Linked DNA regions of Homo sapiens. The protein of the gene in region 4 purifies or fractionates together with the protein of the main gene of each other region. This does not show direct contact. Each region holds a gene or a part of one and is shown on either strand. Other genes may lie near its edges.

What was found.
Region 1: the proteins of ZDHHC12 (region 4) and THEM6 purify together in Homo sapiens (affinity purification with mass spectrometry; one large-scale study listed by BioGRID and IntAct). This does not show direct contact.
Region 2: the proteins of ZDHHC12 (region 4) and NBAS purify together in Homo sapiens (affinity purification with mass spectrometry; one large-scale study listed by BioGRID and IntAct). This does not show direct contact.
Region 3: the proteins of ZDHHC12 (region 4) and SLC44A2 purify together in Homo sapiens (affinity purification with mass spectrometry; one large-scale study listed by BioGRID and IntAct). This does not show direct contact.
Region 5: the proteins of ZDHHC12 (region 4) and ADCY3 purify together in Homo sapiens (affinity purification with mass spectrometry; one large-scale study listed by BioGRID and IntAct). This does not show direct contact.
Region 6: the proteins of ZDHHC12 (region 4) and PPP1R15B purify together in Homo sapiens (affinity purification with mass spectrometry; one large-scale study listed by BioGRID and IntAct). This does not show direct contact.
Region 7: the proteins of ZDHHC12 (region 4) and SEMA4G purify together in Homo sapiens (affinity purification with mass spectrometry; one large-scale study listed by BioGRID and IntAct). This does not show direct contact.

The regions. Positions count from the first base shown.
Region 1 is NC_000008.11:142,725,911-142,730,047, reverse strand, and holds the start of THEM6 (protein THEM6), read right to left. Parts: upstream 2,826-4,137; 5' UTR 2,702-2,825; coding exon 2,189-2,701; intron 1,088-2,188; exon of another isoform or gene 558-1,087; intron 1-557.
Region 2 is NC_000002.12:15,169,791-15,173,437, forward strand, and holds part of NBAS (NBAS subunit of NRZ tethering complex), read right to left. Parts: intron 1-3,647. UniProt on the Homo sapiens protein: Involved in Golgi-to-endoplasmic reticulum (ER) retrograde transport; the function is proposed to depend on its association in the NRZ complex which is believed to play a role in SNARE assembly at the ER. Required for normal embryonic development.
Region 3 is NC_000019.10:10,638,997-10,642,684, forward strand, and holds part of SLC44A2 (choline transporter-like protein 2), read left to right. Parts: intron 1-3,370; coding exon 3,371-3,455; intron 3,456-3,688.
Region 4 is NC_000009.12:128,721,140-128,725,584, forward strand, and holds the start of ZDHHC12 (palmitoyltransferase ZDHHC12), read right to left. Parts: upstream 2,989-4,445; 5' UTR 2,955-2,988; coding exon 2,855-2,954; intron 1,601-2,854; coding exon of another isoform or gene 1,436-1,600; coding exon 1,299-1,435; intron 948-1,298; coding exon 870-947; intron 679-869; coding exon 512-678; intron 392-511; coding exon of another isoform or gene 364-391; coding exon 42-363; 3' UTR 1-41. UniProt on the Homo sapiens protein: Palmitoyltransferase that catalyzes the addition of palmitate onto various protein substrates. Has a palmitoyltransferase activity toward gephyrin/GPHN, regulating its clustering at synapses and its function in gamma-aminobutyric acid receptor clustering.
Region 5 is NC_000002.12:24,833,060-24,836,747, forward strand, and holds part of ADCY3 (adenylate cyclase type 3), read right to left. Parts: intron 1,935-3,688; coding exon of another isoform or gene 1,878-1,934; coding exon 1,735-1,877; intron 1,588-1,734; coding exon 1,426-1,587; intron 1,408-1,425; exon of another isoform or gene 683-1,407; intron 1-682.
Region 6 is NC_000001.11:204,408,854-204,413,190, forward strand, and holds the start of PPP1R15B (protein phosphatase 1 regulatory subunit 15B), read right to left. Parts: upstream 2,965-4,337; 5' UTR 2,559-2,964; coding exon 639-2,558; intron 1-638. UniProt on the Homo sapiens protein: Maintains low levels of EIF2S1 phosphorylation in unstressed cells by promoting its dephosphorylation by PP1.
Region 7 is NC_000010.11:100,975,914-100,979,601, reverse strand, and holds part of SEMA4G (semaphorin-4G isoform 1 precursor), read right to left. Parts: intron 1,971-3,688; coding exon 1,872-1,970; intron 1,783-1,871; exon of another isoform or gene 1,308-1,782; coding exon 1,214-1,307; exon of another isoform or gene 1,076-1,213; coding exon 962-1,075; exon of another isoform or gene 785-961; coding exon of another isoform or gene 754-784; coding exon 584-753; exon of another isoform or gene 501-583; coding exon 331-500; coding exon of another isoform or gene 230-330; intron 1-229. Other genes in the region: MRPL43 (large ribosomal subunit protein mL43), read left to right, coding at 591-784. UniProt on the Homo sapiens protein: Cell surface receptor for PLXNB2. May play a role in axon guidance.

The DNA.
Region 1 (4,137 bases), on a different chromosome or scaffold from region 4:
CCGCCTTGAATGCTTGTTCTGTCATACCTTGCGGAAATGTAAAAGATCAACAACAGCTAGCCTTTTCACACAAATGCTTACGTCCCAGCCCTCTGATGGACATGGTTACCCCTAGCTCTCATTATCGTAATGACCTGCAGCCAAGATGCCAATGTTCTGCTCCTATAGCCTGCCAACTTTGTAGTAAACGGGACTATACACATTCAACTGCTCAGGAGCAAAGTTAAACTTCCAAGAAAAAGGTCTGTGCAGATCTAAAACCCCTCATCTATTTCACTGAAAGGACTACCCTTTCGAACTGTCAGCCTTATCAGTGTAACCCTGTCCTTCTCTATCACCACCTCCACCTTAACTAACTCTAGACCTGCCCTCAGTCGCTTCTGTGGTATGGGGATTGACATAAATGGAAAAGACCCCCTAGGTATTTTTTAAATACGCATTATTCCCCCATCTCCCCCTTCTTCAGTAGCCTCAGTTCTAGATCTCACACCGGTTGCTTCTACATCTAATAATAAAACTAGGGTGTCTATTGTAAAAATAAGAGATCTAAAACAGACCTTAGCCATCGAGAGAGTATCAAGATGCAAATCCCTGGCTGAAATGGATTAAATATTCCGTTCGCACTTTAAATAAAAGCGATTGTTACACATCAGGTTATAAATGAGCCTGTCTCCTTTGTTCGGTGTACTCTCATGGCAAAGCTGCTGGCGAGTGTACCCTTTCTGCAGGAAGTAAAAATGGCCTTGCTGAGGAAATTAAATTTATGTTCACGTGCTATTTCTTTACGGCACCGGGGAACAAGCGTTTCAAACACAGTTAAGGGAACAAATTAATAATGTTTACTAAAGAGACCCAGACTTGGGAGTGTCCAGATATCCCGATGTCTGGAGAACAAAGGCATTCCTGATTTTGAAACCCCGTCTCTACTAAAAATACAAAAAATTAGCCGGGCGTGGTGGCTGGCGCCGTAGTCCCAGCTAGTGGGGAGGCTGAAGCAGGAGAATGGCGTGAACCCGGAAGGCGGAGGTTGCAGTGAGCCGAGATCACGCCACTGCACTCCAGCCTGGGCGACAGAGTGAGAATCCGTCTGAAAAAAAAAAAAAAAAAAAAGAAAATAGTAATATTGATTCTTGCAAAATATAGTAATTAAGAAAATTACTCCTTTATCACAAACCCTTGTAGCAGATCACATCTCCCCATATATACAAGCATTGCACCTAGGGTGGACGCGTTCCTCCTCTTACAGGAACATGCTACTGGGTCTACGGACCAGCTATTCTTTCACCGCTTTACCTTAATAAACTTGCTTTCACTGTGCGCTGCAGACTCGCCCTGAGTTCTTTCTTACACAAGATCCAAGAACCCTCCCTTGAGGTCTGGATCTGAATCCCTTTCCTGTAACATCAGGACTGAGATGAGACGTTGACCCTCGTCTGCTCGGGAGGCACCTGTCCGAGACCGGAGAGGGCAGTGCCCTAAGGGCACACCAGGGGTGCACAGGCCCTGGCTTCCTGCACGGACGCTCCAGGCAACTTTTCTGGCAACTGGTCTGGCCACATCGGCCTGGTGGCCGTCCCCAGGGCCCCAGGTGCCATGCTGCAGGGGCGGTTCTGCCCTGCTGGGAGGAGCGAGCCCTGGGAGGTGCATGGCCCTCCTCTCTCCAACTGCAGAAAGGCCAGAAGGCTTTCAGCTACTCGGCTCAATACCTCAACCCCAAACCCAGGTGACCAGAACCCAGCCCTTCAGCTCTAAGCTGTGTGAAAGGGGGGCTCAGGTCCTCGGGAACTCCTAGGAACCTCTTCTAACTGATCACCTCTCCAACCTATATTCAGGACCAAGGACCAGAGAGGTCAACACTCCAGCCACAGAACAGAGTACCAGGAGAGAGGAGAGGGGTGAACACGAAACCGTGAGGGGCCAGGTTAAGAAATGGCAGGAGGGAAGCACGCTAAGCCCGACTATGAAGAGTTGATTCGGGGACCCTAGGAACCCCCACGAACAAAGGCATCAGTGAGGAATGCCCCCGGTAGAGAGGGAGGGGCGGGAGCGGTAAGAGGCAGGACTCCAGCAGTATCCGAAAGAGGTGCAGGCAGCGGGCCTTCCCTAGGGGAGGGGGCCAGGGACTAGGAGGAGCCCCCGGAGGTCCCACAAAGGCCGTGCTCCGGGGCCAGGGGCGGGGGCCGCTCACCCTGCGCTGGCACAGGTGCTGCACGACGCGCTCGGGTGAGGTGCCCAGCAGGTGCTGCCGGAAGCGCAGCAGCGCGCACACGAAGCCGTCCCGCAGGCTGACAAAGCGCGCCTCCAGGTAGAACGCGCGGTCGTCCCAGCCCAGCAGGCGGGTGCGCACCTCGAAGGGCTCCAGCAGGCGCAGCGAGCGGCGGTGGCGCGCGCACGAGGCCGCCAGCACCGTGTGCGCCCGCAACTCCCTCAGCGCCCCGAGCACCCCGCAGCGGGTCAGGTGCGCGACGCGCGCAAAGTCGGCCTCGCGCAGGTAGCGCGCGTTGTTCATGTGCAGCAGCAGGTCCAAGTCCGAGGGCAGCACGCGGCCCGGGAAGCGCTGCTCAGCTAGCAGGTCACGGACGCGCGGCTGCAGCAGGCGCGCGCGCAGCACGGCGCACGGAAGGCGCACCAGGTACCAGACGTCCAGCAGCGCAAAGACAGCGAGCCCCAGGGCCAGCAACGCCACCAGCAGCCCCAGCATAGCGGCGGCGGCGGGCGCGGGGTCCTGCGGAGTCCGTGGCGCCGGTGCCGGTGTCCGCGGCGCTGGTTACGGTGCCCGCCAGGCCTCCTGGGAACTCACGAGCGCAGCGCGCCCGGAGCGAACCACAGCGCGAGGGCGGCCGAGGGGGAGGGGCCCGGAGCCCCGCCCACCGTGGCGCGACCTTCTCAGCGCCCTACGTGGTCCGTCCCGCCGTCCAGGCCCGCGCCACTTTCGCGTTCCCTGGGGCGGGGCGGGCGGCGCGCTGAGCGCCACAGCGGCACCTGGCGGCCGTGCGCGGCGCTGCAGGCGCGAGGGTGCACGCGCGCCCCGGCGTCTCCGCCTTCCCAGCAGCGCGAGACCCTCGCCAGGCTCTGAAGACGCGGCCTGGCCCTGGCCGTTCGGCCCTTCGTCTGAGCGCAAAGGCTCCAGCACCTCCGCGGCCGAAGCCGCGGGACTTTTCGTGGAAAATGGGACCCAGCCCGATCGCCAGCGGCGCTGCAGCGGACTCTGCGGGAACCTAGCTTCTGCTCCAGGACCTCCAGGGCCACCCCAGCTCGCAGGGCGTTCGCAGCGGCTCAGGGCGAATCACGCTCATGGTCCCCGTGCGCATTTTCAGCCCCAGCCGGTACCTCCTTACTCGCCCTCACGACATTCATTCCACCCCCTAAAGGTCCTGCCAACCCCAGGCTCTTCCCGAGCATTCCCGCCCTTCCTCCCTTTTGAAACCGGAGCAAATCACGGCCGGGCGGAAGCGGGGGAGCCCGGGTGAGAGTCAGTGACTCAGCTGCGGACTCCAAGTGTCGCCGGAGGCCCTGGGGCGCAGGCCCAGCGGGCTGTCGCACAGCTCGGCTGTCCTGTGCCCCTTCCTGACGAGGCTGGGGAGGAAAGGCGGCCCAGAGAAGGCCGGACCAGCTCTCCCCGTCAGCCCCAGGCTCTCGAATGACAGCGGATGCCAGCGACCGGGGATGGGGTCCCGGAATTGCTGGGTTAAACAAGCTCCGGATTCAGGCCTGGGCCTGGGCTGGGGTTCCAGGGTTCTGGACCGCCCTCAAAGAAGGAGCTCCCTGGGGCGGCACCTGGCTCTGCTTGATAGCCCCAGGGACAGGGAGCTCACTACCTATCAGGGCAGCTCCCCCAGTGCCGAGACCAGCTCGGTCCTGGAGACCCTAACCCAGCGGTGCTAGAGGAATTAAAGATACACACAGAAATATAGAGGTGTGGAGTGGGAAATCAGGCGTCTCACAGCCTTCAGAGCTGAGAGCCTCCAACAGAGATTTACCCACGTGTTTATTCACAGCAAGCCAGTGATAAGCACAGTTTCTACAGATTATAGATTAAAAGTACCCCTTAGGGAAACAAAGGGATGGGCCAAAATAAAGGGGTGGGTTTGGCTAGTTATCTGCAGCAGGGGCATGTCCTTAAGTCACAGATGGCTC
Region 2 (3,647 bases), on a different chromosome or scaffold from region 4:
GTGAATGAATCACTCCAAAGCTCACATTCTTTCAGTCTGTGTGGCTGCCTCCAGCCACGTGCATGCACATGCTAATGCGTGCACACACACAGGGCATCTGAGTTACTGTATGTGTTATCTTGGTTCATCCTTCAAAACAAAGAATCCCCCTGCCTAACCCTGCAGGACAGAACAGTGTGTGCCAGGATGCTACAGGCACATGTTTGATAAGATGCACAGATAAAAGGCTCAGAATCTGAACACTGCAGGGCAATACTTTCTTTGTTGCCCTGAATACGTCTTCTAGGCTGGGACACCTTTATTATTCTTTCAGTTTACTCACTAACCCTCCCCTCTGGGAGCCCGACAGTCTCCTAGAGAGGTAGTGATGGATTCTTCCAGCCTGAGGAAGAGACAGGGGTTCTGTTAACGCCTGCGGCCGCTGCTGCTCTCATTCCCTTCATAGTTTGTGTTTCTATCCAGTGCAACCAAATCCTTCCCGTGTTTCTGGCTGGATATACCCAGCTTTTCAGAAGCTGCTCTCATTCTGGCAGGGAGGGCAAGGGGTGGGGAAGGGCAGGGTAGGCTGTCTTTTCTCCAAAAGCCTGCTGCTTGCCTTCTTGGCTGAGAATGCCTAAGGCTAAAGACACGGAAATGAAATGCATGCTTCCTTCCCCTTGGCCCCGGCCCACTCAGAGGTTCCCTAAAGAACGATAAAGGTCTGCGTTTGCTGACCTGCATTGAGCTTGGGCAGTGAGCAGGGAAAGGTTGGGAGGAATTTTGGGTTTGGCTTCAGATAAAATCAAGTGCTGGAAACGCAGGGTGGGTGACTTTATCTTATTTCCTTTCTCTGACATTCTACCTGGGCCTGGCTCTTTGCAAGAAATACAGAATGGCCAGAGTATACTTTAAGATTGTCAGCTGCACGGAAAATACTGCATAGATAATTTTTCTGTGTGTATTTGGGAACAAAATAGAAAATGAAAGAAGAAAGAAAGAGATGGCCTTTGTAATGACCCATTCCAACAAGTACATTTTAAAGAGTCGTCTGAGGTTCAGAGAAGGAACAGGTCATAGACAGCCAAGATGTTCCTTTCTACATATCAGGGCACCAAGGCCAGACAGAATCCTTCCCATCAGCACAGCCGAGTGCTGGGTGTCCTGTCCCAAAGCACTCTCCAACACTGTGACATCAGCACACTGCTGAGTTGCTGGATTAATTTGTTAAGCCTCAAGTTGTCTTTGTTTTTTCTTGTTTTTGACTAAAATTTGTACTAAACATACTAAAACTTTAGTACTATCTGCCACAGAAGCTTGGTACTCTCTGACCATGCATTATTCATTCTAACCTACTTTTTCTTTTTAAGATAAAAATAAAAAAGTGGAAATAGTTGGAAAAAAACATGCCACCTTCTTGCTGACATTTTGTTTAACTCTCTTGGCCAAGCTGATTCCTCCTTCCTCCATACTCCCAAGGCACCTGAGGTCTGGCTCTTCAGGCTGTGTGACGGTAATTTGTATGTCATCCATGTTTGGGTCACCACAAGAGAATTATTTCACCCTCCTTTCCTCTCCAGTAACTGTCCATGTGCATAGATTTTTTTCCCACAATTAATCGTATGATATTTGTATTCTATTTTTCTCATTATATGCTAAGAATTTTTAAATTGTTTTTTACATAGTTTTCAGTCTTAAAAATTTTAATGGCTGCAAAATAGTTGTTATAAGTTATTTGACTTCTATAAATATTTCAGCCATTTTAAGTTGTCTGATATTACTGAAACACTACCATGAATGTTTTTTTGCACATACTTTCTTCTTCATCGAAATTATCGGCATAGGACAAGTTACCAGGGGAGGTATCACTGCAGTGTTACGGGCTGAACTGTGTCCCGCACAAATTCGTATGTCGAAGCCCTTACCCTCAGTACCTCACAATGTGACTTTATTTACAGACAGGGACTTTAAAGAGGCAATGAAGGTAAAATGAGGTCATCAGGATGGACTCCGATATAACCGGTGTCCTTACAAGAAGAGAAGACAGGACACGCACACAAAGCAAGGGTCAGCCATGTGAGGACAGTGAGAAGGCGGCCGTCGACACGCCAAGGAGAGAGGCCTGGGAAGAAACCAACCTTACACCTTGACATCAGACTTCTGGTCTCCAAAACTGTAGGAAAATAAATTTCTCTTGTTTAAGTCACTTAGTCTGTGGTACTTTGTTAGGGTAATATGAGCAAATTAATACATCAGGCAAAGTATCTGAAACATTTTTTTGGTTCTAAATATGAATGTAAGCACAACCACATAATGATGTCAACTGTGCCAGCTTACAGCGGTGACATCAGCATGGGAATGCATCAGTGTCACATCACGAACTTCTCAGCTTTAGGTGTTAATATTTTGATAGGAAAAAATCACTTGCTAATTTAGGAGATATGTAATGGTACCTCAAGGTTGCTTTCATTTGAATTTATTTGCAAGAATGAATTTTTCCATAAATTTCCTATCATTTTTATTTTTTGTTGTGGGAAGAATCAATCATTCACTCATTTAGGAGAGTTATAACAGCTTCCCACTCTTTCACATGTGAAGGATTCTCTGTATAACTGAAATCTTAACCCTGATTTTTGTTATCATGAACATTCTAACCTATTGTTTACAGTTCTGTTTCGGTTGTTTTTTGTTGTATAGAAGTTTTACACTTTCATATTGTCAGGAAAGGATCTACTCCTTTATGACTTGTTTTATTGCTTTAAAACTCAGAACTTACAATTCCTCAAAGGAACTGATATGTTATTTTTATATTTTCTGACTTTTAACAACATTTGACTTTTAAATTGATCAGAAATTGACTTTGGTATATGGTCTGTGGAAAATCACACAGCCCTGCCAGTGGGTTGACTGGTGCTTAAGGGGCATGAGAAAGAAAATATATTCTGTCATTTTTGGATGCGGTTTGGATGTGAGAAATAAATATGAGACAAGTCCAGAGAATTAGTTGACTTAATTCCCCTGATCAAATAACTTTGAATTACAGTGAGAGATAGTCTGGTGCTATGAAAAGAAGACAGGCTTTTGGGTTAGAGACAAATTTCCAATCCTGGTTCTGTCACTAAACAACTGTGTGACCTTGTTCAGGACGATCTCTCTGAGCTCCAGTTTCCACATCAGAAATACACACTGTCTGTAAGGGTTGGGAATAATACAAGCTTTTAAGTGCCCAGCACAATGCCAAGTGCAGAGTCCAGGTTCAGTAAATAGCTGATGTTAATACAGGCAAACAAATCATGAGAAAAGGATTTTCTAGAAAGGGAAGGGCTTATATATATCAGAAGATGAGTAAAATGCTTGCTATCTCTGTCAGAGATTGTTTTTTGTGTGTCAGCAATTAATTTTTGAGAATAAATGATACTTTACAGATCTTGGGAAAGAAATCTATTAAAGCACAAAGCACTGCTGTCTTCCAAGCCATTAAAATGTTATCTGCTTAATTCCTCTTCCAACAATAGGTAATGAACCTTCTCTGATTTAAAATCTTTGATTTTATGGATCTATATCAAGCTAAGAGTAATTACAATAATGAGGAAAGCTGAAATTCCAGAAGCATAATGCATGCAGCCCTCATTTCATTTGCTTTCAAGATTATTTAATACTATTTCACTGTT
Region 3 (3,688 bases), on a different chromosome or scaffold from region 4:
CCATGTTGGTCAGGCTGGTCTCGAACTCCCGACCTCAGGTGATCCACCCGCCTCAGCTTCCCACAGTGCTGGGATTACAGGCGTGAACCACCACACCTGGCTAATTTTTGTATATTTAATAGAGATGGGGTTTCACCGTGTTGGCTGGGCTGGTCTCAAACTCCTGACCTCAAGTGATCCGCCCGCCTCGGGCTCGCAGAGTACTGGGATTGCAGGTGTGACCCACCACGCCCGACCTCAGACCACAAACATTATCAAGCACCTACTGTGTGTCAGGCATCGAGGTGGAGGGCTTCCCTCTAAAGGCCTTAGAGTTTGGGGGTAAACAGATACTCCTCCATAATGATATTGGTGAATGTATGATTGCAAACTGGGACATGCCACGAGTATGTCTGTATAGCACAGGGAACTGTTTGAAACTGTGGTGGGGGCTGGGCAGGTGTGGGGGGGGTCCAGGTGGTGCCATGCAGGTGATGTTGGATCTGAGATCTGAAGCTGCAGGCAATATCCAGGCAGAGGGAACAGTACAGTGGCCCTGAGGTGGGAGTGTGCCAGGAAGCAGTGGGGCTGACGTGGAAGGAGTAAAGAAGTGGAGATAAGGGCCAGGCACCGTGGCTCACACCTGTAATCCCAGCACTTTGGGAGGCTGAGGCAGGTGGATCACCTGAGGTCAGGGGTTTGAGACTAGCCTTGCCAGCATGGCGAAACCCAGTCTCTACAAAAAAAATACAAAAATTAGCGGGGCGTGGTTGTGGGCACCTGTAATCCCAGCTACTCGGGAGGCTGAGGCAGGAGAACTGCTTGAACCTGGGAGGCAGAGGTTTCAGTGAGCCGAGATCGCGCCACTGCACTCGAGCCTGGGTGACAGAGTGAGACTCTCTCTCAAAAAAAAAAAAGTGGAGATACGGCCAAGGAGGTTAACAAGGCTGTGGAGGGATTGAGCCTTCATTGCAAGGGCAGTATTGTATCTCAGTGTAGGTCTTGAAGCCCATTGACCTAGTTTCTTATTTTAGTTCCTCTATTTAGTAGTTCTAAGATGAGTAAGAGTAATCTTGGGCAAATTATTTAATCCTCTAAGGTCCACTGACTTTTTTTTTTTTTTTTTTTTTTCTGCGATAGAGCCTTGCTCTGTCACCCACGCTGGAGTGCGATGGAGTGATCTCTGCTCACCACAACCTCCACCTCCCGGGTTCAAGCGATTCTCCTGTCTCAGCTCCCTGACTAGCTGGGATTACAGGCATATGCCACTGTGCCCGGCTAATTTTTGTATTTTTAGTAGAGACGGGGTTTCACCCTGTTGGTCAGGCTGGTCTCGAACTCCTGACCTCAGGTGATCCACCCACCTCGGCCTTCCAAAGTGCTGCCAATAAAGGCATGAGCCCCTGTGCCTGGCCATTTCATTGTTTTGAATTTTTAATTTAATATAATAGAGATAGGCCAGGTGTTGTGGCTCAGGCTCTACTATAATAACAATAATAATAGAGGCAGTGTCTCCCTATATTGCCAGGCTGGTCTTGAACTCTGGACTCAAGGGATCCTCCTGCCTCAGCCTGCCAAAGTGCAAGGACTACAGGCATGAGCCACCACGCCCAGCCAGGTCCACTGACTTCAGTCAACAAATGTTTATCTAGCAGCTACCAAGGCCGTGTGAGTCTCCAGATTGCTAGGGATGCAGCAGTAAATGGGACTGGGTCTAGTGAGGATGTGAGCATTAAACCTGAAAGCCCTAAACATGCATAAAATTGCAGCTGCACCAAGAGCTCAGGAGGGGTGCCCAGTGCTAGGAGGACATAAAATAGGCTCTAGAGGCCGGGCATGGTGGCCCACACCTGTAATCCCAGCACTTTGGGAAGCCAAGGCAGGCGGATCATGAACGTCAGGAGATTGAGACCATCCTGGCTAACATGGTGAAACCCCATCTCTACTAAAAATACAAAAAAATTAGTCAGGTGTGCTGGTACGCACCTGTAGTCCCAGCTACTCAGGAGGCTGAGGTAAGAGAATCGCTTGAACCCGGGAGGTGGAGGTTGCACTGAGCCAAGGTCCCACCACTGCACTCCAGCCTGGGTGACAGAGCAAGATTCCGTCTCAGGAGGGAAAAAAAAAAGGCTCTCAGCCAGACGCAGGGGCCCACATGTATAATCCCAGCACTTTGGGAGGCCGAGGCAGGCAGATCGCTTGAGCTCAGGAGTTTGAAAACAGCCTGGGCAACATGGCAAAACCCCATCTCCACAAAAAAATACAAAAATTAGCTGGGTATGCTGGAACATGCCTGTAGTCCCAGCTCCTTGTAAGCCTGAGGTGGAAGGATCACTTGAGCCTGGGAGGTCAAGGCTGCAGTGAGCTGAGATGGGGCCACTGCACTCTAGCCTGAGCAACACAGTGAGACCCTGTCTCAAAAAAAAAACAAAAAAAAAACGCCCACTCTAGGTGTCGTAGGTGGTTTCCTGGAGGAGGTGGGACTTGAGGACTTGCTCTTTGAGCTGAAAGCAGAAGGTCGATGGGGCATAAATTAGATTTAAGTCAGGACAATAGCACATGCAGAGGCCCAGGGGTTAAAGAAAGCAAGGGTGAGGCTGAGTGCAGTGGCTCATACCTGTAGTCCCAGCACTTGGGGAGGCCAAGGTGGGCGAATCTCTTAAGCCCAGGATGGGTAATGGGTAACGTGGCAAAAACCCATCTCTACAAAAAATACAAAGGTTAGCCGGGCACAGTGGTGCACATCTGTAATCCCAACTACTCCGGAGGCTGAGGCGGGAGGATCACTTGAGCCCAGGAGGCAGAGGTTGCAGTGAGCTGAGATTGCACCACTACAATCCAGCCTGGGCTACAGAGTGAGACCGTGAGACCCTGTCTCAAAAAAAGAAAAAAAAAAAAGGCCGGGTGTGCGGTGGCTCACGCCTGTAATCCCAGCACTTTGGGAGGCTGCGAGGCAGGTGGATCACCTGAAGTCAGGCGTTTGAGACCAGCCTGGCCAACATGGTGAAACCCCGTCTCTACTAAAAATACAAAAATGAGCCAGGCGTGGTGGCACGTGCCTGTAGTCCCAGCTCCTCCGGAGGCTGAGGCAGAATTGCTTGAACCTGGAAGGCAGAGGTTGTAGTGAGCCAAGATCGTACCATGGCACTCCAGTCTGGGCAACAGAGTGAGATTCCGTCTCAAAAAAAAAAAAAAAAGACGGAGAGAGAGAAAGAGGATTTTGTGTGGATGGTGGGGCCCTGCCAGCGGGGGTGAGGGGTTGGGATGTCACTAATCCAAAGAGGGTTTCTCAGCAGGGGAAGGATGTGGTCCCAGCATAGGATGGACTCAGGGGGTGGGGGCTGCTCTGGGAAGGACACGGAGCAGGGACAGCTCGTTTCTCCTTGCCCAGACGGTGATCGTTGGCTCCTACTTGATTGCACACGGTTTCTTCAGCGTCTATGGCATGTGTGTGGACACGCTGTTCCTCTGCTTCTGTGAGTGACCCCTCACCCCAAACCTTGCTGGGCCCCGAATCCCTTCTTTCCACTGGGCATCACATCACCCTCCAACGGGGCAACACGCTTGCCTGCCCCCAGCTTCCCCAGGGCTTGGCTGTCCCTCGTCCTGGGTCCCCAGCCTGTCTTCCTGGTTTCCTTTTGCGCTTAGAAGCAGCTCCGACCTCCTGTCCACTGGCCCAGGCTGCAGCCTGGACGCTGCCCTGGAGCCC
Region 4 (4,445 bases):
TGGTTTTCAGGCACAAGACGGTAGCCCGGCCTCCAGCAACCCTAAACAGCTGGGCTGCTGCCCTCTTCCTCCTCCTCAGCCCAGAGGGTCTCCCAGGACCCTGAGGGCCATCCACAGAAGAAGTGGGCCAGGTTGCGGGTCAGGCCTCGGTCGAAGGGGTTGCTGGGGCGCTGGCGGAGATAGGCGATGCGGTGTGAGGAGATGAATTCCCAGGTGGTGGTGTTGCTGGCCACCAGGTAGAGGTGCGAGACGAGGAGCAGGCTGGCCACCAACGAGAAGAGGGACAGCAGCAGGAAGGTGGCGAACAGGAGCCCGCTGGACCGCAACCACTGACCCCAGGGCTGGAAGAACCGGAGGCCTGACCTGCGGTGCAGGGGACAGGGGCCTGGTGCTGGGGGAGGGCAGGGGAGCCCTTCCCTCCCCATGCCGGGTCCCTGGGAGTCCTGGCTCTGTCCACCCCTGTGGGAGCATTCATCCCACCCTCCCTCTACACCCGGGCAGCAGCACCCACCATGCCAGGTACAGGCCCCACAGAAGCACCACCAGCTGCAGCGCCAGGTAGACCACAAAGAGTGGGTGGTTGCGCTCTCCCACACAGTTCTCCATCCAGGGGCAGTGGTGGTCGTAGCGGCGGACGCAACGGCGGCACTCACGGCAGTGCCGAGCCCTCAGGGGCTGCTGTGGGCATGGAGGAGAGTGGAGGCTCAGTGCCAGCCCTGCTGTGGGCCCACCACTGAGGGAAGGAATCAGGGCCTGATTCTGGAAGGCCTTCTTGGAGGAGGGGCGAGGCCCAGGCAGTGGGGCAGGAGGAGGTCGAGGAGTCTCAGCTTTGGCCCAACCTCTCCCACGGGTGTCCGTGCATCACTCACCAGCACCAGGCAGTATCTGCAGCGCCGAAGAGGGATGGCTGGAGGAACCATGGCTGTCTGCTCCTCTTTGAGCTCCTCCTGGAATGAGGGGTGGGGTGTAAGACAGGGTCCCCTTGGGAGACAGATGGCATTGGCGGGCAGCTCCCCTAGGGGCCGGCTTAGCTCTGGGTATGGAGTTTGGGACCCATCCCATGCAGAATGGAGGTGTGGGGTATGGCGGAGCACCCTGGACTGAGGGCGGCTGTGTATGTTTGCAAGTCTCTTCCTTCTCTGGGGCCCAGCAGTTTCCTCACTACTGTAGATGGGGCTCTAGGGGTGGCAAGAGGAGTCACTGAACTGCTCCCACAAGAGCCTGCAGCACAGAGCCTGGCATGGAGACTGGTGCTGGTTGTTAGGTCCCTGTTGGTGAGAGTAGGGGCCCCTGGTTACCTGAGGCTGGGGCTGCACATTCACGTAGCCAGGGTCCATGAGTGACACAGCGAGGTAGAGCAGCAGGGAGCCCAGCACCAGGAGCAGGAAGGTGAGGGGCAGGAGCAGCTCCCCCTGCTCCTCCCATTGCCGCAGCTCTGGAGAGGCCGGAGAGCACAGTGAGGCTGGGCCGGGTAGAACAGGAGTGGGTGGGGTTGGGGTGCAGTTGGAGGTGGGGAAGTGTGTTCCTGGCTGAGCAAAGGCCTGGAGATGTTGGTTCCATGAGTGGCTGTGTGTGGCCAGCAGTTCATCTGCACTTTTATCTGGAGGGTCAGAGGGAACCATGGAAGGTTATAGAGCCAGATCTGTTTTGGAAAACCTCATTGCTAAAGAAATGGATCAGGGGAAGCCTGGGGGCAGAGAATCTGGCCAGGAGGAAGAAGAGAGTCGCTACAAAGGCCTGGCAGGAAGTGAGGGAGGAAGGAATGGACAGGGGGCTGCTGGGTCAAGGGAGCCAGACCTGACTGGATGTGGGAGAGAGGGAAGAGGGGTCCAGCGTCTCTGGCTCTGCAATGGTGAGAGACTGGTTAGGTCTGAAATGCCTGAGAGAGATACAGTGGGAAGGGTGCAGCTGGCAGGCTCAGATGCTGCAGAGGGGCATACGGAAGGGTCCAGCAGGCTTCAGCCCAGGGAGGTGACAGGATTTTGGGGAGGTAGGGTGCAGGGCAAGGAGTGAGGGGGCATGAGACCACCAGACAGCAGAGTGTAGACAAATCCTGTGTCCCTTGGTTGTAAGGGGGAGCAGAGAAGAAAGGGTGGGTTTTGAGGGGGGTTTTCTGATACGGAGACCTGAGCAAGTTTTTAGGCTAAAGGGTGAAGGTGGTGGAGGAGGTCTGTCTTGGGAGGAAAGCCAGAAGGGGCCCCAGTCCAGAAACTGAGGCTGGACCGCCATGGAAGGAGGGCTGGGGTCTGCTGTGGGGGACAGTGGGGGAGGCTGCCTGTGGCAGGTGAGGCGCTGGGTAGGGGGCTACTAAGAGGAATGAGGGAAATGGAGGTGGGTGGGTGGGTGAATCTGTGGGAAGATGGGAGACAGGCCGCACCCCATGGAGTGTTCTCTGGCCTGAGGGTTTGCCTGGACTTGGGCAGCTAGTGGCCATGGGGGTGTGGGGGGTGTGGGTGTGGGCAGAATGCCAATCTTTGCATCTAGTTGAGCCTCCTAATCGTATGGATAGGAAGATTTGGGGTCAGTTCCTGGGAAGGATCATGTGGGTCCCAGGATCAGGGGACATGGGGCTCAAGTCGGTCCTTGGATCTGGTGGGCACCGGCTGGGTCCTGGGATGGACAGGGCATTTGGCAATGATCAGGAAGATGCTGGGATTAATTAGGGATCAACGGGGTATCAGACAGAGAGCAGGTGGCTCTTGGAATGATAGATGGGGAGAGGGCTTCAGGAGCTGGTGGAGATCGGGCCAATCCCAGGATCTCCAGGGATTAGGCGGGAGACCCAGTGTGACCAGAACGTCTGGGGAAGTACGCGGGATCGGGTGGGTCCGGGGTCGCTCGGGGTCCGGCTCACCGGTATCGTGCAGGAAGAGCACCAGCGTGATTCCCCAGGTCAGCACGGTGTGCCCGGTCCGCACCAGGACCCCAGGGCTGAGGAGCGCCCAGGGCGCCATCGCCTCGGCCCGGGGCCCCACCCGGAAGAAGCGCCCAGAGGGGCGGGCCCTCCGAGGGAGGGGAACGCCGCCGCCCGGGGACTGGTGGATCTAGGCGTTGGGCGGGGCCGGACTGGGTCAGGGAGGCTGCCTATTGGATGGCATCTGCGGCCGAATGGACCCTCAAGCCAACAGGTGCCTGAAGAGGCTGAGGGTGGGGCCGGCGCGCGCGCAGCTGGTAACTCCCTCAACTCCAGCCCCACCCGCCAGGTAACTTTTGAAAGCGCCGGAGCGCGCGCGCACCTCCCCCGCGCTCCGCTGTGCCCTCCCCCGCGTTCCCCTGTGCCCGCCCTCGCAGCCTCGCGCATGCGCGTAGCTCCCTGGGCGCTTCGAAGATCCAGCGGCTTGCTGTGAGTCCGGGAGGCAAAATTGTACCCATTTCAAAGATGTGATGACTAAAGTCTCGAGAGGGCCAAGGCTCGCCCAAGGTTGCTCTGTGGTGACAGCTTTACCTCCTTGCTATGTATTCTCAGATATTGCAAACGGACGAGAGAAAAGTGGAGGTACGTGGTGCACATTCTGACTATGGGTGATCCAACTTAGGCGGGAGTCAGAAATCCCAGCACTGCCCCTTCCTACCTGTGTGACCCTGGGCGAGTTACTGAGCCCCTCTGAGCTGTTTTCTGTCTCTATAAGGGGGATTACAATAGTGTCTTCCTCCTAAGGTGTTTGGGAGGATTAAATAATGGAAGCGCCTTGTCTAGCACGGGACTGTCTTGCCTCTCCTGCTGTGAGCCACCACCTACAGGCGGACTTTCCTCACCGGAGGCTGCAGGCTGTCCTCCTTCCCTGTGTCCCCAGGGCCTTCTCCACTCAGCCCCGCCTTTCCACAGCACCTCCCACTGATACCAGCATCCTCCTCCGCCTCCCTCTGATTGGCCCCATCCCAGCTCCTCCAGGATACTCCTCTGACATCTGTTGTTTTTCTCAGCTCAACATCCTTTTTTTGGTTGGGGAATCGACTTCCCATCCCATGTGATTGGAGGGACTGCCCCTCACCCCATAGGATGGCGAGCGGCAGGCTGTGGGCTTTCGACTCTGCAGAACCAATCACAGGCCTTCCATGAGATTACTGTCTAGATGCTGAGAGGAAGGAGCATTCTTTTGGATCTCAAGCCTAAGGAATGGGATATAAGGCAACTGGGAGCCGTCTTTACGCTGGGCGGAGAGGGCTTACCCTGTCTGTGGCTGGAGAAAATGAGACCAACTTATAAAGACACATAGAGATGGATAAGCAGCACTAAAGGAGGGAGCAAGAGATGGTCTGAACAACATTGTCTGAGCCCTCTAGATCCGGCTGTCCCTGAAGCTGATACTGACTCTGCATCCCCTGGTTGCAAGAGTCAATGAATGCCCACCTTTTTTTTTTTTTTTTTTTTGAGACAGAGCCTCACTCTGTTGCCTAGGCTGGAGTGCAGTGGCGCGATCTGGGCTCACTGCAACCTCCACCTC
Region 5 (3,688 bases), on a different chromosome or scaffold from region 4:
GGCCTGGCCTGGCCACCACAGTGGCTTGTCTGGGCCGCTATTTGGTCTCACTGCTCCCGCTGTGCTCACTAAGCGCTGTTCTCAGCAGGAGTGAGCCTCTCCAGGCATATGTCACAACAGGGGACTCCTCTGCTCCCTTGTTCTGGCGGCCTCCTGTGTTAAGAGTGGAAGCTGGCACCCTGCAGTGGCGTGTAGGAGGCCCCACGTCTGTGCTGGACTCCTGCTACTCTTCCTGTGGCCCGTTCCCAATGCGATGCCTCCTCACTGTGCCTCCAGGGGCCAGGCCACTCCAGCCTCAGCACCTCTATCCGAAGCAGGTGTCCCCCAGATAGGAGAAGGCTCGCCCCTCACCCGCTTCCAGGCGTTACTGAAATATTATCCTGCCAGCAAGTCCTGCTCTGACCATCCCACATCAAAATGCAAACAAAACAAAACAAAGCTCCCCAGCAGCATACCCGCCTCCCTTCCTTGCCTTCCCTGTGTCTGCAGTACTTACTCTCGCATGGATGCATATTTTAATTGTTTAATTGCTTTTGCCTGTAGCTTCCCCTACCAGAACCCAAGTTTCACGAGAGCAGGGGTTTCTGTGTGCCGCATCGCTGCCATAGCCCCAGCCCTTGATCCCCACGCATGAAGCAGACAACCAATCAATACTTATGGAATGAGTGAATTTGAGCCTCACCACAGTCGTGAGTGTCCGCTAGGGCAGGGGTTGTTCTCCTCATTTCACAGATGAGGAAACAGATGCTGCCGGAGCCTGCAGTGGCCTGCACGTGGTCACACACCCGCAACCTTAGATAGTGTGACCCAGCCCAAGGCTCCTGACAAACTGTAATCCCAGCAGGGTTCCAGACCCCTCCTCTGTGACGGGGAATCCCCGATTGGCCGAGGGGAGAAAGGGAGAACAAGAGAGTGGTCGTCACCCTCAGACAGGGCTTCACCAGCTGGGGACTCCAGGAGGCCACACCTTGCCCTGGAGGACCTACTGCTGCGTTAGAGAGGGCGTCAGTCTGTGCCCACAGCCTAAAATCTATCTTTACCAAGATGAGCCAAGAGAGGGGCCAGGTCAGCCTTGGTGACTGAGACTGACGCAGTGTCCCCATCTTTGTCCCAAGAATCAGTGTGGGCCCATCTAGCCAAGGTCTCCAGCCTTCTGGAGGCCTCTGTCCCTCAGCTCTCTTGATCCTGGCCAGATCCCCATTCTGACGCTAGGACTGCTCCAAAACGCGGGGCAGGGAAAAGGAAGGATGCCCAGGGTGCCGTCTAGCACTCCTGGGGCCTGTGGGGGCCGTCCCAGTGGGGGTCAGGGAGCAGAGACTGGCTTGCTCCCCAATGTCAGGCTCCCGCTGAGACACCTGCCCCCGCCCCCCGCCCGGCACCACCGCAGCCGAGGAAACTCGTGGCCCTCCCCGGCCCCTCCCTCACCAGGGGTCGATGAGTATCTCGACCAGGGCCGTGCAGAGCAGGACGACGCAGGAGCAGCTGAAGGCAGCCCCACTCTGCTTCTCCTTCTCCACCGAGTAGCGGGTTTCCATCTCGGGGTCCATGAACCGCATGGACAAGAGGAAGGTGTTTCTCTTCTTTACTCTGCAGTGGGAACAAGCCCCATGAATCCCAAATGCCACATCTGCCTTGGCCTAGCAGGGGGGCCGTATTTGGGATGCTCAGTTTCCTGAATCCCTTGTCAGGGCCCGGGAGGAGTGGTGGGCCTGGACGCTTCCGGGTGGCGCTTACACTTGGGCGGACTCTCGCTCAAGCAGGGCCTCGTTGAGCAGCTGGTTGAGCTCGTGCTCATCTTCAGAGGCATCCACCACTCGGTCAGCCAGGTCCTGCAGGCGCAGCCTCCGGCGTGGGTTGGGGAATGAGGGGTTGTCGGCCTGTGAGCCAGGGAGGCAGCGTGAGTGGGGCAGATGGGACAGAGTGGTGGGGAAGAGCTGGGAAAGACAGAGGTGGAGGAGGAAAGGAACAAAAGAGGGCATACTCGGAGGACCAATCCCTCCAGCTCTAAAATCCCTTTCCGGGAAGTCTTCCCCATGCTCCCACGTGGCTCCATGTGGCCTGGATCTACACCCAAAGCTCCAGTCTTTCCTGGCTCCCCGGGCCCCCCACCCAGAGCTCTGCAGGGAGGGTCCGCTAATGACAGCATTGTAGGGAGCAGCCCCTGGCTCCTGAGCAGGAGACCTGTAATCGGAGACAGCTGCTGGGCTGAGGCAGTCCTGGCACTTCCTGCTGTATTGATGTGGGGGCCATATACATTGGCAGCCTGGGGACATGAATGGCTCCCAACTCTAGGGCTTCAGGGAACTGTTAAAGGAACTCACATCTGGCTCATTTGGAAAGGAAGATCTGAGGGGGAAAGTGATGGGAGAGAGAAGAATGTCCTCATCACTAGAGGGCTGACAAGGGGCGGGTAGGTGGAGCTGGGGCACCCACTACCCTTTTATTCCCAGTTCCAAAGAAAAAGCATCAACTCCAAAAACAGGAATCCTGGCTGTGATGACACAGCCATCAGTCTGAATAGTCACTGAGACGGGCTGAGAGCTGTCTGAACGGGTTCAACAGTGCATCTGGGAGCCACAGTCACGACTCCCTGGGGCCGGGCACGGTGACTCACGCCTGTCATCCCAGCACTCTGGGAGGCTGAGGTGGGTGGATCACTTGAGGTCAGGAGTTTGAGACCAGACTGGCCAACATAGTGAAACTCCATCTTTACTAAAAATACAAAAATTAGCCAGGCATGGTGGTACACGCCTGTAATCACAGCTACTTGGGAGGCTGAGGCAGGAGAATCTCTTGCACCCGGGAGGCAGAGGTTGCAGTGAGCCAAGATCGCGCCACTGCACTCCAGCCTGGGTGACAGCGTGACTCCATCTCAAAAAAAAAAAAAAAAGACTCCCTGGTCTTAAGCACAGGCACAGGTGTGCCACTGGTTGACAGTTTGACCCCAGATAATGTTTCCCCAGCCACATCTTCCCCTTCTGTAAAATCACGTGGATGGTCTGTGGCAGCAGCGGGAACCTGTTCCTGAAGCAGATCCGGGAGCAGCGTGGCCCTGGCTGAGGGTCAGGGCCCGAAAAATCAGGCTGCTAAAGCTGCATCTGTGTCCTCCTTGCTAGTGAGTGCCCTGAGTCTGGACCCCCACTTTCTATCAAGAAAACTGCAACAAGGAAAAGTTACTGAATGTTGGGGGACTCAAGAAAAACCTAATTTACCCTGAGCCCCATCTACCCTCTTGTTCTACGGCATCTGCTCTAATGGCACCAGGGCCAGCTCTCCTGTCCCCCTCACGCGGTGAGCCCGAGCAGGGCAGACATCCCATCTCTGCAGCACTGACCTCCATCAGTGAACGTGCTCCAGACGCCCTGCGGTCAGGGACCAGTTCTGGGTGCTCCCCAAGAGGCACCCTGCACTCTGGGACAGCATGCTAATTCCTCGCCTTTGGGGGCTAAGGAAATATCCCATCTTGCATGGAACTTGTGGGGCTTGAACCTAGCCAGAGGGGTGAGTCCAGGTCTGATATCTCACTTCCAAAATGGTCTCAGATCCTATATAATTTTCCATGGATGTCCTCACTGATCTCAAATCTACAGGATTCCGGGCCATCAGAGCTACAAAGGCCTCCGAGCTAAGCACCTCTTTTGACCTTACTCACCCCGGCATGTAACTGATGAGGAGACAGTGGGGTTTT
Region 6 (4,337 bases), on a different chromosome or scaffold from region 4:
ATAACTAGCATTGCATTCCTAAGAAAAGGCAATACCACTTCCTGTACTGGCTTTGACTTTCAATTAAAACCATGTAATGTCAAAACCAGTGAAATTACTATTTAATTTCATGGCCAATTGGACCAGATAAATCTGACTTGCTACTTGATATCATCATCCCTTTGGGTTGTAATGGACAGGAATGAAGACACTCTTGTTATATGCAAAAAAAATATTAAGTATTTGCAGACAACATACATTTAAAATCATTTTAAAACTCTATGGCTGTAACAGGACCTTTTCAATCTCTAGAAAAATTAAATCGTGTACACACAAAGTTTAATAGTCCGTTAAAAAGTGTGAAAAATTGAAGCTTGTAAGGAAACAGTCCAGAACTACCAACCCAAATAAAAATGGCACTTTCCTGCTAACATCTACACACTGGTATGTTCGTTTTGGACAGCAACAATGTGCATTGGGGTGGGGGGTGAGGGACAGGAGGAGAAGGGTCATTTACATATTTCTCAATCCAAGTATATGAATTTAGAGGCCTTCCTCAAAAATACATGCACTCCTAAGCCTCCAAAGTCATGCTGCTATATTTAAGCATATAAAAACAGTCAGAACATATCAGGCATGTTAAAAGACAAGAAACAAACCTTTTTTCTTTTGACATGTGTGTGTCTTCCTCCAGAAAGAACGTCACGCTGTACCGAGTCTGGACATTCACTTTCTTGGCTCCCCAACAGCTGCACCTTACAAGAAAGTAAGGTGTGACACTCAGAAATGGCCACAATGGACTCAGATGGGGTCTTTGAGTCACGACAGCCTTTCTCATTTTCCCCTGATGTTTGAAAAGGAGCCTTAAAATTTAAAGGGTTGTAGGGGTCATCAGAATTACAGAATGAGTTCCACAGTTTGAGACTCTCTGCTTCATCTGCACTAGATTCCCAGTCATCTTCCTCCCCAGAACTATGCTCAGGGGTCTCAGGAAGGCTTCCAGACTGGGAGGAATTCTCTAGATCAGACTTGCCAGACAAATCCTTCTCTGAATCAGAAGGCTCTTCAGGAACAATTCTGGCAGCAGTCTGAATTGTTGCTGTAAAGTTCTGGGGATTATAAGGATCTACACTGCAGAAAGAGTTCCAAAGGTGAAGCCCTTCAGGGTCTTGTTCAAGGTCTGAGTCTGACAGTGAGCTATCACTATCAAAACCATCATCCTCAGCTTCCTCATCCCAATCCTCACCTTCTGGATCAGAACTTGTTTCCAGGTCACTGGATGCACCTCCCAAAATATAATCTATCAGTTTGTTACTACAAGCTGGTCTGGCAGAAATGGGAAGGTCACCTTCTAGGTATGAGTAATCAACTACACTTATTCGGCCCTCTCCAGGCTCCTTTTCCATAGGTATCTCACTAGATGGACAGCCCTCAGAAGGGCTCTCTTCTTCCAAAGCAAGTGGAACCTCTGTAGTTAATAATTCTATTTTTTCTTCAGTGGATTCCTGGGTGTTTCCAGGAATGTCTCCAGCAGCAGGAACAAACTGTGTTGGGTTATCTCTGCAGTGTTTTGGATCCATCCGGAGAAGGCTGTGTTCCTCCTCCAGGCTGTGGTAGCCATTATCCTGGTCAGGGGTGGGTAAATCTTGCCCCTTGCTAGCCTGTTGAAGGAATTCCAGCCGTTTCATGCGAAGATGGTGAATTTCTGGTAGGCCTTCCGTAGAAAGAGGTGGACATCCCTGCCACGAGGCCGGAATGAGTTCTGCACTCAGCGGCTGGGGATGACAATGGTCCTCTCTCAGGCAGCTGCTCTCTGGGGTTAGTGTCTGGAAGCCGACTACCTCGCTATTTCCATCACTGTTCTGATAGCTGACTTCTAGCCTAGGAAAGCAGTCCAGGTAGGAAGGGTTCAGCAAATAGGATACCACACTGAAATTGTCTATGCGTTGAATGTTTAGAGGCCCAGAGGGCGAAGAGCCAAGTTCCCGGTTAGAGTACAGACGGGATTGAAGGCTACTGGGCAACAGCTCCACTCCCCACAGCTGCTGCTCTAAGAGAAAAGCCTGTGCTGCAGGGTCCAAAGCACTTCCCTTGGCCTTAAGCTCCAATTTTAGGTCTGGGGGCGAGTATTGCCAGTGGATCCCCTCCTCTAGCCAATCAAGGGGACTGGTGACCGAGGGGTCTGAGGAGTCGAGCTGCAGCGAACTCAAAGATTTCTGCGCTGTGGGGGCGGCTGGTTTCTCCCGTCCCTTCAGGGCTCTCAGGGCGCTGTAGACTCCAGCAAAATCTAGCCATCTGGTCGGAAACATTCCACCGAAAAGTTGGCTCCAAATTAGCACCTTCTGAAGCAATCCGGGGAGCGGCGCAAGGAGCTGGGAGAGCAGTTTCGTCCAGTAACTGACCCGAGTCTCGGGCTGGGCAGAGGAAAGCAGTGTGGGGTTCCCGGAGTTTTCCGGGCCAAGAGGCGTCGGGAACTTAGAAGAGCCTGCTTGCGATCGCCGAGGGAAAAAGGGTGGCCAGAACCGGAAGCCCGCCCGAGGGCCAAGCCGTTTCCGCGATCCGCCTGTCCCCGGCTCCATCTCCTTTTTCTTGACAGTCTCTCAGGTAGGGCCGCGGCGCTCAGCGGCTGGAGGTCGACGGGATTCGGAGGAAGCCTACAGAGTCTCGGCCTTGCCCAGCGGTGGCGTCGCTGCTCCAGGCCGATCTTCGAGCCAGCAGAAAAGCCACAGAGGGCAGCGAATGCGGCAGCGGGCGGCAGAACACAGGGAAGAACAGCCCGCGCAATAGGCGGCGACTGATGCGACTTCCATCCTGGCGGGGAAGGAGGTTCCCTAGTCGGCTCGACGCTTCAACACCATGGATAGGAGTCCCCCCACGGCCTCGGCGATGGTTTTCCGACTGACAGAGGGTTGAAAAGCCCCTGAGCAACGCGATACCGGAAGGACTGGGTAGGCCGGCTGGTGCGGTGGAAGCGAAGCCCAAAATGGCCGCAGGGCCCGCGCGCCGGCAGGACACCCCCCTAGACGCCGGAAGAGACGCAGGACTGTTGGGCGTCTACGTCCCTAGCGCCGCGCCGCCCAACGTCACTCGCAAAATCCCCGGGGGGCGGGCCTTTCCGCCCACTTCCGTGTGGCCGCCGATTGGTTTTGCCAGATTTCCCTGTCGGCTTCCTTACTCGAGGTAGAGCCGCACGGCAGCGTGAGGTTGCATCAGCCGGGGCGGGGGGGGGGGGGGGGGGGGGGGGGGGAATGCACGCATGCGCAGTCGTTTCTGTGTGGTCTCCTAGGAGACCGCCCCAACAGCCCTCTAGGTTAAAGGTCTTGGGGAGGGGAGGGGTTTTCAAAATAACCCGAGAATTTCCCGGAGGCGTTTTGATGGCCTAATACACACTGACGTGTGTACAGTCATCCCCTCTCATGAAATGGGGATTAGTTCCAGGACCCCGTAGACACCAGAATCCGCAGACGGTCAAGTCCCTTATGTAAAATGGTATAGTGTTTGCATATAACCTGCATACACCTTCCCAGATATTTAAACCATCCCCTAGATTAAGTATAATACCTAATACAATGCAAGTGCTATGGAACTAGTTGTTATACTGTATTTATTTGTATTATGTTTTATTATCTTTATTTTTCCCGAATATTTTCAATCCATGGAAGGTTGAATGCCCCGCGGGCCAACTGTAGGGTTATCGTAGTCTTAGATTTTTATTATTTATTTATTTGAGACAGGGTCTAGCTCTGTCGCCCAGGCTGGAGTGCAGTAGTGCGATCTCGGCTCACTGCAGCCTCAACCTCCTGGGCTCCAGTGAGCCTCCCACCTCAGCCTCCCGAGGAGCTGGGACTACAGGCTCGCACCACCACGCCCAGCTAAATTTTTTTTTTTTTTGAGACGGATTCCCACTCTGTCGCCAGGCTGGAGTGCAGTGGCGCAATCTCGGCTCACTGCAACCTCCGCCTCCCGGGTTCAAGCGATTCTCCTGCCCCAGCCTCCCTAGTAGCTGGTACTACAGGCGTGTGCCACCACGCCCAGTTAATTTTTTGTATTTTTAGTAGAGACAGGGTTTCACCATGTTGGCTAGGATGGTCTCGATCTCCTGACCTTGTGATCCGCCCGCCTCAGCCTCCCAAAGTGCTGGGATTACAGGCGTGAGCCACCGTGCTCGGCCAATTTTTGCATATTTTTATAGAGACAGGGTTTCGTCGTGTTGCCCAGGTTGGTTTCAAACTCAGCTCAAGTGATCTGCCCGCCTCGGCCTCCTAAAGTGCTGGGGTTACAGGCGTGAGCCACTGCGCCCAGCCTGACAGATATTTCAGGGTTCTCCTATTGTTCAGTACTATGTAGACCATCAACCT
Region 7 (3,688 bases), on a different chromosome or scaffold from region 4:
AGACCATCCTGGGCAACACAGTGAAACCCCATCTCTATTAAAAATACAAAAATTAGCCAGGCGTGGTGGCACACGCCTATAGTCCCAGCTACTCGGGAGGCCGAGGCAGGATAATCACTTGAACCCGGGAGGCGGAGATTGCAGTGAGCCGAGATCGCGCCACTGCACTCCAGCCTGGCAACAGAGCAAGACTCCCTCTTAAAAAAAAAAAAAAATTCTCACTTTGCAGCCAGACCTCCCCACAGTGGATCCTATCTCATCCTCATTGACCTCTGCTCCAGCCCCTATGCTGTCCGCAGTTTCTTGCCTCCCGATTGTCCCTGCACTGACCACTGTGTGCTCAGCGTGAAGGCTGCATAGAAGTGTGTACGGCTTGAGGTTTCAGCATCCAGGCTGCAGACCCCACGCAGTGTCTCATACAGTGGAATGTGGCAGATGAGACGGGCTTTCAGGAAGGAAGTCCACTTCTTCTGCAGGATCTTCTTCCCTCCCAGGTCTCCCTGGGGAGGTAGAGGCACGGGATAAGGGGCCAGGGTCAGAGGTCCAGCCTCTATACCCGTGCCCCAACGTCAGCCCAATCCACCTTGCAGACACGAGCCACACGGGCCACACGGTGACTGCTGCGGCTCTGAGTGAAGCTGCCAGAGCCCTCCTCAGTGGCACGCTCCGTGAAGAAGTAGTACACCTTGTCATCATCACCCACTGCACTGGCCTTGCTCTCCCGCACGAGGACGGAGAACACAAACTCCGCATCTGTGGGTCAGGCAGTTTGAGAGGCTTTTGAGACAGGCTGGGGATTCCTTTCCCTCACTCTGAGGCTGACCCCTCACTTGACAACACACAGGAATGGAATGGACAGGCTCACCTGGGGATTTGGGGGTGGGGTGGTCAGCTGGCCAAGGGAGTAAAAATGAAGAAATAGTCCCCTACCCCCCATCATCCTGTGCCTCATCCTCCTAACCATTGAGCCAATGCATTGGTGTCTCCTCAGTTCTCAGGGAGTGTGGGTGGCGGCTCCGGCGGATGTCAGGAATGCTCCGGAATTCATACCTAGTGGCTGTGTAGAGGCCTCCATCTGGCGTGGGGATATTCCAGGCATGAGAGACATGTCATATTCAACAGGGCACATGACATATACATGGTGGCAGGTCCTAGAGATGAGATCCACATCCTAAAAATACCATGTCTGTGATAGGGAAGAAGGCCTGCTCACCAATGATGAGGCCTGTGAAGCCACGGGCTGGGTCATAAGGACACTTCTCCTTCCCCTCCTCGAAGCTGGTTGGCAAGGTGAAGGCCTCAGCATCCTAGGGAACAAGGAACCAGCAGTAAGTGGTTCCGAAGACAGGCAGGGACAGTGGCTCAAAGTCAGATCAGTCTGGGGTCAGGGATCAGCGATCAGGGATAGGGGCAGGTTGTATGGCAGATGCACCTGACAGCAATAACTTAAGCATCCCCTGAGAATGACCTTATGGCCTCAAAACAATGTATGTTTGGAGTTCCAAATCTGCAAGTGGCCAACCTAGAGATTCACTCCTTATCTATGAAGAACATCTGAGCCCCTAGCCCATCCTGTGGAACACATGCTGTCCAGGGGATCAAGGCCCTTTGTTTTGGGTTAAATGAAGTTTGCCAGGTGGAGGTGATTAGGGGGAGGATGCTAAGTGAAAATGCTATAAAAACTGCATGGTTTTTACAAAGGGGAATGGTTCTCCAGTGCAGCCCGCCGCCACTGGAGTGCCCTGTATGGAAGTCCCCTTAATAAACCATCCGTCTCCTTCACTGGCTCTGAGTCTCTTCTTTGGCATCTTGAACATGATCCCATCCCTAATGAAGTCAACAGAGATCTGGCACAACACAGGTATACTCACAATGGCTGCACAGAGGGGCTGGAAGGCGTGAGTCCCACATGCATAGAGGTGGGTAGAATTGAGCCGCTGCAGGAACCGCACATGGTTAAAGCACTCCGTCTGTGGGATGAGGTGGAGAGGGCTGTGAGCCCCCTGCCTGACTAGAAGCCTCCTCCATTAGTCTAGCTTTGTAGTTTGGCTCTTGCCCCCACCCACAGGACAAACGGTTCTTTCCAAGATACCTGTGATCCTTCTCACTGCTCCAGAATATTTCCTGGAACTCACTGTCCTTGGCCTCCCAGTAACATGACCCTATTTCTCTCCTCTGTCCCTCAGATTACCTGACACCATTCTGCCAATATCTCCTGTGTCTCTTGCAGTTCCCTCCACCTCTGGTTCAAGAGCTCCCAGGGATTCCACCATCCTGAGGTGCTTCTCCTCTCCCATCCAGCTCCTTCTCAGCACCTCTTTCTATTCTTGGAACTCCTGCCCTCCTCGCTGGGGTGATACAACCAAATCTATCCCTAGATGCCAGCTTGCTCTCCACCCGATATCCCAGGGATGTTTCAAACTCACCTTGTCAGAAGCCAAGTTCATCCCCTCCTCCATAACCTACATCTTTCCTAAACCTGTTTATCCAGTCTTTCCCACCTCACTTCATCCAACCTACGACTCAACCTAGAAGCCAGGGATCATCCTTGCTGCTTCCTACTTCCTCACCCCCACATTCAGTCCCTCTCCACAATTAATTCATTGTCCTAAAAGTCTCTTGACTTGGTCCACTTTGACTCCACCACCAGCACCCAGTCCAAATGACCACCATGACCTCTTCCTTAGACATCTGCAGTTGCTACCTGATAGCTCCTCCCAACCTTCTCTTTTATAAAAACGACTTTATAAAGCTATTTATTCAGTCAATGAATACATGTACATAGTATAAAACTTAGAAAGTACAAAGGGGTATGTTATAAACAGGGAGTCTCCCATTTATCCCTGTCTCCCAGGTTGCCTGCCAAGAAGACTGCTGTTACTATTGTCTGAAGTTTCCTTCCAGAGATATTTTACCAAACAACACACTTTTGCTACTCTCCAACCACTTTCCAAGGGATATTCTAAAAATGTAAACCTAGCCAGGTGTGGTGGCTCACACCTGTAATCCCAGCACTTTGGGAGGCTGAGGTGGGAGGATCACTGGAGCCCAGGAGTCCAAGACCAGCCTGGACAATATAGCAAGACCTCATCTCTATGTGGTGGCATGCACCTGTAGTCCTAGCTACTTGGGAGGCTTAGGCAAGAGAATTGTTTGAGCCCAGGAGGTCGAGGCTGCAGTGAACCACTGCACTCCAGCCTGGGCAACAGAGTGAGACCATGTCTGAAAAAAAGTCAAGTGGATCACACCACTGTATCGGCTCATCAGTGACCTGAATATAGAGTCCCACATGCTCCTAGCCCTGTGTGATGGGACTCTGCCCATTCCTCTGGTCTCACTCACCCTACTCCAGCCACACTGGTCTTCTCTGCCTGTCAAATGCCCTCAGCTGCCAGCCTCTTGACTCCTTTGCCACGTTAATGATTCCTCCTCTTGCCTGTTACCCAGGGTTTAAATCCATACAGGCCTCTTTGTGTCTCCTCCTGCTCCCTCACCTGGTACAAGCCACTACCATCTGTCCCCCGTCTCCATAAGCCTGCTCAGGCCCCTTCCTCTGACCCAAATGATGCCCCCAGCCTCCTCACTGCTTTTCCTGCCTCCAGACTCACCCTATTTTCATCCATCCAGTGCCTGGGGCCAGATAAATATTCCTAAAGTGATGTTTCCCCAAGATGTTTATTTATTTTTT